Linked DNA regions of Homo sapiens. The protein of the gene in region 1 interacts with the protein of each later gene in a pairwise test. Each region holds a gene or a part of one and is shown in the gene's direction. Other genes may lie near its edges. The genes, in order: ST13, CD101 and OLFM2.

The links.
Region 2: the proteins of ST13 (region 1) and CD101 interact in a two-hybrid assay, tested with the Homo sapiens proteins (one large-scale study listed by BioGRID and IntAct).
Region 3: the proteins of ST13 (region 1) and OLFM2 interact in a two-hybrid assay, tested with the Homo sapiens proteins (one large-scale study listed by BioGRID and IntAct).

Annotation. Positions count from the first base shown.
Region 1 is NC_000022.11:40,832,613-40,836,263, reverse strand, and holds part of ST13 (hsc70-interacting protein), read left to right. Parts: intron 1-376; coding exon 377-461; intron 462-593; coding exon 594-704; intron 705-3,592; coding exon 3,593-3,651. UniProt on the Homo sapiens protein: One HIP oligomer binds the ATPase domains of at least two HSC70 molecules dependent on activation of the HSC70 ATPase by HSP40. Stabilizes the ADP state of HSC70 that has a high affinity for substrate protein.
Region 2 is NC_000001.11:117,000,401-117,004,581, forward strand, and holds the start of CD101 (immunoglobulin superfamily member 2 isoform 1 precursor), read left to right. Parts: upstream 1-1,359; 5' UTR 1,360-1,372; coding exon of another isoform or gene 1,373-1,417; coding exon 1,418-1,460; intron 1,461-4,181. UniProt on the Homo sapiens protein: Plays a role as inhibitor of T-cells proliferation induced by CD3. Inhibits expression of IL2RA on activated T-cells and secretion of IL2. Inhibits tyrosine kinases that are required for IL2 production and cellular proliferation.
Region 3 is NC_000019.10:9,926,500-9,930,150, reverse strand, and holds part of OLFM2 (noelin-2 isoform 2 precursor), read left to right. Parts: intron 1-3,651. UniProt on the Homo sapiens protein: Involved in transforming growth factor beta (TGF-beta)-induced smooth muscle differentiation.

The DNA of each region.
Region 1 (3,651 bases):
TTAGCCAGGATGGTCTCGATCTCCTGACCTCATGATTTGCCTGCCTTGGCCTCCCAAAGTGCTGGGATTACAGGCGTGAGCCACCGTGCCCGTCTACTTTTTCCTTAAACAAGATCAATATGGGTCATACTAAGAATGTGCTATTCTATTGTTAGTTAGGGGCTTACGTACTCAGAAATTGTCTTACCTCGTGAGTTACAGTATAGGTGTGGTAAGATTTGCTTTCAAGAGCCAGTTTTAGTATAACTTAGTTGTCTTTTTTATTTTTACTTGATTAAAAGAAAAATGTAAAAGACTTAACTGGATAACAGATCAAAACTTTTTATTAATATTTTTATCCTCTGAATATTTCTCGATAACTTTTGTTTCACTTTAGGTGAACTCCAGAAAGCCATTGACTTATTCACAGATGCCATCAAGCTGAATCCTCGCTTGGCCATTTTGTATGCCAAGAGGGCCAGGTGAGAACTCTAAACAGAAAAGCATCCCCTGGCAAATAATTTCTGCACATTTGTTTAAATAGAGTTGCTTCTGTGTTGATCCCAAAACTTTTACTGAAATGAATACTTTTTAATAACACACTTATTTTTCAGTGTCTTCGTCAAATTACAGAAGCCAAATGCTGCCATCCGAGACTGTGACAGAGCCATTGAAATAAATCCTGATTCAGCTCAGCCTTACAAGTGGCGGGGGAAAGCACACAGGTAAATAATTGAATTTAATTATTTTCAGAACTCTTTACATTTAAATCTGATGTTTTAAGATGCTTTGTTTAAACAAAAACACAAAAGTTCCTAATGACTTAATTTTCAAATTAGTGTGTACTTAGTATCAAGAAGTGAGATAGCTTGTAGACAGCTGCTTAAAAGGTAAAAGAAAAAAAAAAGAAATTTAAAAGAAGAAGTGAGAATATAGGAAGGAAGAAATAAAAAGTATTTTCATTTTTTTCATTCAAATAAAGCTACTCTTACCAGTTTTTGACTACATATGGCCAAATATAAGGAAAGGATTTTTACTTAAAATTAATTCCAGGAAAAGAAAGAATGATCTTTTATCAGTGTCCTTACAAATTTTCTCTTACTTTCAGACTCTGTAAGTTAGCATTGAACTACCAGTGTATTATAGAAGAAGGAGTATGCCAGCCTGAAACTACTTCAGTCACTGCTAGGCCACCTGAAAAATTAGGAGAAGGCGGGGGGGCATAAAGAGGTGAATTTAACCCAGATTAGTAATTATACCTTGCAGCAAAACTTAGGAATATTTGTATCTTGGGAATGAAGTGTTCAGTGACTTTCACATGTTACCTGGGTTGAAAGGGCTCAAATGTGGATGGAGATAAAGATGGATATGTTTTTAGGACAACTGTATTAGCTGACTCAGAGTAGCTCTAGTGGATTTTATGACACATGTTAAAGATAAACATTAAAAGTTGAAATAAAATTTATTAATGCTGTGTCAGCACAGGAAAAGCCCATGCATTGCTGTTGATCCTTTTGAAATCCCATTAGTCCAAGTATTTCTTTGCCTTCTAATACAAGACAGCGTTGGCTCATCTTGTGCTTTGCTTGTCTCAGACTGAAAATAAGCTATTTCTGTGGGAAATCGTGGTTCATTATAGCGGAAACTAAGATTTGATCACTGTGTCTGTTCATTGCTTCTGGTATGTACTGTCGTTTCAATGAACAGCTAGAAAAAAACATTTTAAAAATCATGAATTTAGGGAAAAAATTCTTGAAATTGTGAGTTTATACTGATATTTTCTATTAAAATGTAACATTAAATGTTTTGTTTTACCTTTTAGTTTGTATTTTTGACACTTGTGTGGTAAAAATTTTTGTCCTAGTTTTACATTTACTTACTACAATGCTGTGATATACATAAAACTGTTTCAGAATTACAATACCTTAAAAACAGTATACACTCTAAGTAAAGTTTGAAGGTTTTTTGGGAAGTTTTTGTTTTGCTTTGTCTTTTGTTTCTACACAGAGTCTCACTCTGTTGCCCAGGCTGGAGTGCAGTGGTGCGATCTAGGCTCACTGCAACCTTCACCTCCCAGGTTCAAGTGATTATCCTGCCTCAGTCAGCCTTCTGAGTAGCTGGGATTACTTACAGTCGCGCCCCACCATGCCCAGCTAATGTTTTGTATTTTTGGTAGAGAGGGGGTTTCGCCTATTAGCCAGGCTATTCTCAAACTCCTGGCCTCAAGTGATCTGCCCTCCTTCCCCTCCCAAAGCATTGGGATTACAGGTGTGACCCAAGGATGTTCTTATTCTTAGAATATATATCCCACTTGAAATATACAGTCAAGATAACTATGAAAAGTTACTTGAATTCATTTTTTTCTGTGTAGCTTATGTTGTTAATGCAATACACAGTGTTTTGTTTTGTTTTGTTTTGTTTTGAGGCATTTTGCTCCTTCACCCAGGCTGGAGTGAAGTGGTGCAATCTTGGCTCACTGCACCCGCCCCGGGCTCAAGCGGTTCTCCTGCCTCAGCCTCCCAAGTAGCTGGGATTACAGGTGTGCGCTACCATGTGTGGCAAATTTTTTATATTAGAGATGGGGTTTTGCCACATTGGCCAGGCTGGTCTTGAACTCCTGACCTCAGGTGATCCACCAGCCTCAGCCTCCCAAAGTGCTAGGATAATAGGCATGAGCCATCGCGCCTAGCCACACCTTATTTCTTTTTTTTTTTTTTTTTGAGATGGAGTCTTCCTCTGTCACCCAGGCTAGAGTGCAGTGGCGCGATCTTGGCTCACTGCAAGCTCTGCCTCCTGGGTTCATGCCATTCTCCTGCCTCAGCCTCCTGAGTAGCTGGGACTACAGGCGCCTGCCACCGCGCCTGGTTTTTTGTATTTTTAGTAGAGATGGGGTTTCACCGGGTTAGCCAGGATGGTCTTGATCTCCTGACCTCGCGTTCTGCCCGCCTCGGCCTCCCAAAGTGCTGGGATTACAGACGTGAGCCACCGCGCCCAGCCACACAGCTTCTTATTTCTGTTTGTATTCAGGTTTAGGATTTGCTTTATTTCCATTTTTCTGATTTTATTTTTTGAGTATGTAAAGCATTTAAATGTTCGAAGAGTTACACCTGAGTTAAAAGGTATACCCAGTGAATTCTCAGTTTTCGTTGCTGTCTCCTCTGCCCCATTCTCACCTACTGTCACCAACCTTTAGTTTCTGGTTTACTTGTTCTGAGTTTTTCGTAAAGCCTGTACACATGTATTATTTTCTCTTCTGTCTTACATAGAAGGTAGCTAAAAGCTAACACATTATGTTAGTCCTGGTTTGGGCGAGTTGAAAGTTACTGGTCTACATACTTAGAAAATTACGATATTCTGAATTAAGAAAGATTTTGTTTGTTTTTTAGCTTTTAGTAGAAAAGCAGCTTTAAATAGAGGAAATTTAAATGTTTTCAGGTTTTTATAGAGTTAACTAAAATGGGATATAGTAATTGAATTGGTTAGTGAAAGTTTATAGTTAATATTTAACTTAAGCCTGTTTTAGAACAATCCTTTTTTGTAAGGAAGAAAGATATCATGCCACATAGGTGAATATGTATAAAAGGCTCCTAAAATGAGTGTAAATCTGTTTCAGACTTCTAGGCCACTGGGAAGAAGCAGCCCATGATCTTGCCCTTGCCTGTAAATTGGATT
Region 2 (4,181 bases), on another chromosome or scaffold:
AGGTTTTACAATAGTGATGTTATCCCTAGGAACAGTTGGGGAGGTTGGAATTGTGTGGCCTCTGGCTGCATGACTCCTAAACCATAATTTCTAATGTTGTGGCTAATTTGTTAGTCTTACTAGGGAAGTCTGCTCCCCAGGCAAGAAGGGGGTTTGTTTCCAGAAAGGGCTGTTATCCTCTTTGTTTCAAAATTAAACTAAGCTAAATTCCTCCCAAAGTTAGTTTGGCCTACAACCAGGAATTAACAAGGGCAGCTTGGAAGTTAGAAGCAAGATGGAGATGGTGAGGTCAGATCCCTTTCACTGTCATAACTTTCTCACTGTTACAATTTTTGCAAAGGCAGTTTCACAGGGCAGATGAAGATTTACTTAAATGTCTCATGATGGTGATGATGGTAGCTAATATTCATTGAGCAGTTACTATGTACCAGATATTGTTCTAAGTGCTTTAAATAAATTAGCTTGAAACTATCATTCTCAGCAAACTATCTCAAGAACAAAAAACCAAACACTGCATGTTCTCACTCATAGGTGGGAATTGAACAGTGAGAACACTTGGACACAGGAAGGGGAACATCACACACCGGGGCCTGTCATAGGGTCGGGGGAAGGGGGAGGGAAAGCATTAGGAGATATACCTAATGTAAATGACGAGTTAATGGGTGCAGCACACCAACATGGCACATGTATACATATGTAACAAATTTGCACGTTGTGCACATGTACCCTAGAACTTAAAGTATAATAATAATAAAAAAAAGTAAAATACAAAAAAAAAGAAATAAAAAAATAATTAAAAAATTAGCTCATTTGGCATTCACAGTAATCTTACAGGGTACCTACTATTAGTATCCTCATTTTAGCAATGAGGGTTAGGAAAAGTTAATTAAGTTTTCTAAGATTGCACAGTTACTAAAACTAGAATCTGCATGCAAACCCAGGCAGCCTGACTCTAGAGCCTGTAACCTTCAGCACCACCTCATGTCGCCCCAAGTTCATGTTTTTCAGGGGCCTTCTCCCATTTCTCAGTCATTTCCTCTCTCAAGAGAGGAGGAGAAGGAAGGGCCAAGAAGACAACATTGCTGGTGCCTTTTTTATTTATTCAGTTTACCTAAATTCTCTCATCATTACCAAATGACACATACTGTGAGCCAGGTTGAGACCCATCTTTTCTTAGTTTTATCGATATCTGTTTACTTAACCACAAAGATAACTTTTTTACTCCCAAATTTGAGTGATTAGTAAAGAGCTACATAATGTAACCAGTTTTGCTTTTCACAAGACATCTCTATTTCTCAGTGGGCTGAAAACCACACTTTTGCTTCCTCTTTACTTTGCAGTGAGAGCACAGCATTTGTCACTCAACCTCTGAATGTTAGTGACACTATTGGGACGAAAAAGGACTGTGCTGGCCCAAATGGCAGGCATCTCATATGTGGCATCTTTCTTTCTCCTTCTGAGTAAGTTTCATAATCCTTTATGTTTCTCTTGTCACAGGAGTTCATCAACTCAGGGTGCTGAGTGATGGAACAGGACAATTTGGTCTCTACAGGAACAACTATGCCATATATTTCTGATGTTAGCAATAATTTTTGACTTACTAATGACAGTTCTTGGCTTACCTAGACATCCTTGAGTTCCAGGGAGTCACAATGCTTGGTTGAGTCCCATGCACAAGATTCCATTGGTTTTAACATTTGTGTGTGTTGCCAGATCTGTCAGTTTTGCTTGGCCCTGGCTTTACTCATCTTCCTGGGCCGATCATCCCAAGAGACAGTAAAAAAGCTTTGTGTCCCAAACTGAGAGGAGACCTTAAGGTTTGCCTGATATTAAGGCTTGATGGGATAACTATGCCTTGCAGATATGACTGGATGGAAAGAAAGGTTATGAAAGTACTTAGTAGTTTTAGACTATGCTAAAAGAAGGTTCTAGATTTCACCTGCGAGTGGAAGTGGAAATTGACTACTGAGAGACTGAGAAATGAACAGGAAGATTCACTTGGCTCTACTGAGGGCCATGCAGAGGGGCTTGCCTGATCTAGGGGCATTTATCTATGTTTGAATAGGATGGAAGAAGAGAAAATTTGGAGGTAGAAGGGAGAGTCAGATGAGTTGAGCAGGTAATGGAATAGTTTCAAACCAGATAGCAGGTACTTTTTATGCTACAGTTTTCATTAACATCTGGTAAAGAGAATAGACTCCATCTCAGAATAATGTTTAAAATGCATAAAATAAAATGCATAGAATTACAGAGGAAATCAGTCACATTGAAATACAGGTATCAAAATATTTTAAATAAATTATAATGCAGTAATTTATTTGCTTCTTATTTATGCATTACATAACAAAATCTACAGGTAGGTCTTTTAACCACCAAACTTCAAAGTAATGATGAGTATAAATAACATTTCAATATATCTTAAGTAGTTGTAATGTGATATGAAGATATCTGTGGTTGTCTACATACATAACTGAAGAAAATACTAAATTTCCATTAGAGGCAAAAATGAAAATAAAGATGTAAGATTATTTTTCACCCTAGTTTATGGACCCTTTAATCCTACATGTGGACCCAGTTAAGAACTCTTGCTTTATAGCTGGGCATGGTGGCACATACCTGTGGCCCTAGCTACTTGGGAGGCTGAGGTGGGAGAATCGCTTGAACCTGGGAGGTGGAGGTTGCAGTGAGCCAAGATTGAGCCACTGCACTCCAGCCTGGGTGACAGAGTGAGATTCCATCTAAAAAAACAAACAAACAAACAAAACTCTTGCTTTAGAGAGACTGGATGGAGCCAGTGCAGGGACCCGAATGGCTGGGATGATTGGGGAACTAAACCAAGCTGCATTTGGTGTGACCAGGACTATGGCTGAAGAATTAAAAGAAAAGAATACAGCATTCAGCACAAAGAGGTTGCTTAATAAACATTGATTGAGTTGAATTGTGCTCATGTCTCTAGGTACATATGATAGTGTGAGGTTAAGAGTCAGACCTAGGGCCTGCAGGGGAAGTTACTGGGACCACTTGCTGGGTGACGGATGCCTGCCAGACTGGCTTGGCGGGTGTTGATGGATAGGTGCACTGGTGGGATCCTTTGGGGGCTGGTGTGTTTTTGTTGTTTGGTTAAGTTGTCTGAGTGTGATTCTCAAGTGTATGTGCTTTGTGTATTTGAATTCTATGTTTGCTATGTATATAGGAGGAAACTGGGTTTACATTGTGCAATAATTCATAGAATTGCAAATTCTGTCTCTTTTTTTGGTAAGCAGGCTAGAAGCCCTGGGGGAAGGAAAGTAGTAATCAAGGCTCAAAAAGGGGAAGCTGGAAGCTTTTCCTTAACCCATTTAAACAATTACCTAAACTGGGTTATACATTTACTTCTTCTAAATTCTGACTCATCTGAAGCACTAATTTTGTGTAGAAGCACAGTTTTTATGTGAAGAATACATAAATCAGGAAGTTACTGGAAAAAGCTTTAGAAGTCTGCTGTTTGTCCTTACAAATATAGAGGGGAATTGAAATAAATTATTTAAATAACGATCTATTGATCAATTACATTGGTTAGCAAATTTACACTTTGTCCCAATTTTTTTTTAGTAAATATAAGGACTGAACAATCCTGATAGAAAATGGTGCCATATGAGATTAATGTCATGGGTAAATGAGTTCTCGGATTTAGCAGTTAGCTTTGTCTGCTTGATCTATTTCCCCCACCCAAACTAGCTGCCCTACAAATAATGGCCATTAATATGGCAGGGTTTGGGGGAAGGGCTATTGTCTGTCTTACTGAGTTTGCATTCATGAAAAATAAAAAAGATTCCACTTAGTATGGATGGAAGCTATCTCAGCCTCCAAGCATATAGGGTTTTTGAATGTGAAAAGAGAAAGAAGCTGCTTGTTATGTTGGCTATTCCTGAGGTAGGTTTTGTATAAGGTAGCATTATTTGAAACTGCTGTTTTTTTGGTATAAAAAGTGCTCAAGTATGGACCATTTTATACAGTTCAACCTAATCGTTTTCATTCAAATAATACTGCAGTGGTAAATTTGACAATTCCAGTGATATTTTTAAAGAAAGTCAATACCATCGAGGAATTTTTGGTGTTTTGAAAGCATGATTCTAATGTTAGTATGTCAGTGCCAAGCTTTGTACTCATCAGCCAACAAGAATATGAGCTACTATTCAAAA
Region 3 (3,651 bases), on another chromosome or scaffold:
GGGACCATGAGCACAGGGACATGCTTGTATCATCATCACACCAGTGACTGTATCCATGTAGGCCAACCATATGGTATGTGTGGATTTCTTTCTTTCTTTCTTTTTTTTTTTGAGATGGAGTTTCGCTCTTGTTGCCCAGGCTGGAGGTCAGTGGCGCGATCTCGGCTCACCGCAACCTCTGCCTCCTGGGTTCAAGTGATTCTCCTGCCTCAACCTCCCGAGTAGCTGGGATTACGGGCATGCACCACCACATCCAGCTAATTTTGTATTTTTAGTAGAGACGAGGGTTCTCCATGTTGGTCAGGTTGGTCTCGAACTCCTGACCTCAGGTGATCTGCCTGCCTCAGCCTCCCAAAATGCTGGGATTACAGGCGTGAGCCACCACGCCTGGCCTGGTATGTGTGGGTTTCTGATGAGCCCAGTGGCTGGTGTGGGCAATGACTTTGTAGCCCCAGGATTCAGTGTTAGTGCCTGAGAGACAGTAATGTGCTGTTTTCATTTGTTCCTACATGCATGTATTCATTTATTTTATTTTATTTTATTTTATTTTATTTTGAGACGGGGTCTCACTCTGTCGCCCAGGCTGGCGTGAAGTGGTGCAATCTCGGCTCACTGCAACCTCCACCTCCCGAGTTCAAGCTCTTCTCCCGCCTCAGCCTCCCAAGTAGCTGGGACTACAGGCACACACCACCACACCCACCTAATGTTTACATTTTTAGTAGAGACAGGGTTTCTCTATATTGTTGTTCAGGCTGGTCTCAAACTCCTGACCTCAGGTGATCCACCCGCCTCAGCCTCCCAAAGTGCTGGGATTACAGGTGTGAGCCACCGCGCCCGGCCCATGTATTCATTTAGAGAGCATTCATTGAGAGCCTTCTGTATCTCAAGCGTTGTACTATGCAACAAGCACTGGGTGGTAGTTTGTGCTTTCAAGGGGTGGAGTAGATTTAACTTCTGGAGGAGTTGAGTCTGGCTGTGTTGGGAAAAAACTTGTCATGACAGGAACATTTTATTCCCATATCTAGGGAACTCTTGTCTGAGAACATTGACATGTCCTCCCTGCCAAGGTGGAAGCCCATTCTATCTCTTTTTTTCTTTTTGAGATGGGGTCTTGCCATGGTGCCCAGGCAGGCCTCGAACTCCTGGGCTTAAGCAATTCTCCTGCCTCAGCCTCCCAAGTAGTTGGGATTACAGGTGCACACCACCTCAGTGTGTCTTGCAACTTCATCCATCCAGAGTGCAGCCACAAACCAAGAAGTCACCAGGAAAGAGCAGAGAGTAGGGAGAGTAGATTCCATGAAGACTGTATACAAAAGCTTATTCTCTTTCTCTCTTTTTTTTTTTTTTAGACAGAGTCTCACTCTGTCGCCCAGTCTGGAGTGCAGTGGCACGATCTCATCTCACTGCAACCTCTGCCTCCTGGGTTCAAGCAATTCTCATGCCTCAGCCACCCAAGTAGCTGGGACTACAGGCGTGCACCACCATGCCTGGCTAGTTTTTGTATTTTTAATAGAGACGGGGTTTTGCCATGTTGCCCAGGCTGGTCTTGAACTCCTGGCCTCAAGTGATCCACCCACCTTGGCCTCCCTCAGTGCTGGGATTACAGGCATGAGCCACTGCATCCAGCCTGGAAAAGGTTGTTCTTGTTGCTCCTGGGGACCCAGTAGACTCTCGGTCCCAGTTTACTCTTACTTTACACATAGTTCCAACAATCCTGGGCAGCTAGTAACTAGCCTTGCTTAATAGATGAGAAGACAGGTGTCATTGCACAAGAAGAAAGAAACAAAAAGGCAAAGCCAGTTCAGCCATCAAATGAAATGGCAAATAGCTTCTCACTTTTTAGGCTCTAAGAGAGTCCTGGTGAATCCCAGGAAGAATACATGATGAGCACATGGTGAGCCGGGTTCTTTTTAAATTTTATTTTGTTTTTTTTTTTTTAAGACGCAGGGTCTTGCTCTGTTGACCAGGCTAGAGTGGAGTGGTGTGACCACAGCCCACTGTAGCCTCAACCTCCTTGGCCCAAGTGATCCTCCTACCTTAGCCTCTCAAATAGTTAGGACTACAGGTGTGTACCACTACATCCAGCTAATTTTTCTCTTTCTTTTTCTTTTTTTTGGTAGAGATGGGGGTCTCACTATGTTGCCCAGGCTGGTCTTGAACTCTTGGCCTTAAGTGATCCTCTTGCCTCAGCCTCCCAAGGTGCTGGGATTACAGGCATGAGCCACAGGGCCCAGCTAATTTTTGTATTTTTAGTAGAGACAGGGTTTCACAATATTGTTCAGGCTGGTCTCGAACTCCTGACCTCAAGTGATCCGCCTCAGCCTCCCAAGGTGCTGGGATTACAGGCATGAGTCACTGCACCCGGCCCACATTGTTTCTGTTCCTAATTTCTCTAGTAATTTCTATGAGAAAGACACTGATAGAGGCACTCACTCACTCAGGAGGGACGTGACACAGTCCGCTCTGAATGGCTGTCAGTTGCCAAATTTGGGAGACAGATGCAGCCGACACATGGTACAAAGTGCCAGATGTCAAGAGTCAAGTGGGCTTCCTGGGGGAGGTGGCATTTGAGATGGGCCTTGAAGGATGAGCGAGTGAAGACTGGAGGGTGGACACAGAAGAAAGTCATTGGTCATGCTGACAAGACCTGGTGGGTTTACCCTTATTTTACATGATTCTAACCATGTTTAAAAGAGGGGAAGTTTCTGGAAATGGGAACTAGGGTAAGTGTGTGGTTGATGCCTATGGTGGGTGCAGATAGGAGAAGGGAAGTGAGCTTGAAAAGGTTGTGATCTGACTGTAAAGGCTTCGAAAGCTGGGTTAAGGATTTTAGAATTTATTTATTCATTTATTTATTTATATTTTTTTCGAGACAGAGCCTCGCTCTGTCGCCCAGGCTGGAGTGCAGTGGTGCGATCTCAGCTCACTGCAACCCTCCCCTCCCAGGTTCAAGCAATTCTCCTACCTCAGCCTCCCAAGGAACTGGGTTAACAGGCGCGTGCTACCACGCCTGGCTAATTTTTGTATTTTTAGTAGAGACAGGATTTCACCATGTTGGCCAGGCTGGTCTCAAACTCCTGACCTCGTGATCTGCCTGCCTCGGCCTCCTAAAGTGCTGGGATTACAGGCGTCAGCCACCGTGCTGGACCTTATTTATTTATTTTTAGAGATAGAGTCTTGCTCTGTTGCCCAGGCTGGAGTGCAGTGACGCGATCACAGCTCACTGCAGCCTCAAACTCCTGTGCTCAGGCAATCCTCCCACCTCAGCCACCTGAGTCACTGGGACCACAGGCGTGTGCCACCATGCCCACATAATTTTTTTTGTTTATTTTTTGTAGTGACAGGGTCTCACTATATTGTCCAGGCCGGTCTTGAACTCCTGGGCTCATAAGATCTTCCTGCCTCAGCCTCCCAAACTGCTGGGATTACAGGCGTGAGCCACTGCACTTGGCCTAGAATTTAGTGAGCTGGTAATAGTGACTCATAGAAGAGGTTGTGCATGTTTAAATGGAAGACTTTAAAAATTTTTAATTGTGGTAAAATACACATAATATAAAATTTATCACTTTAGTCATTTATTTATTTATTTATTTATTTTTGAGATGGAGTCTCGCTCTCTGTCCCAGGCTGGAGTGCAGTGGCGCGATCTCA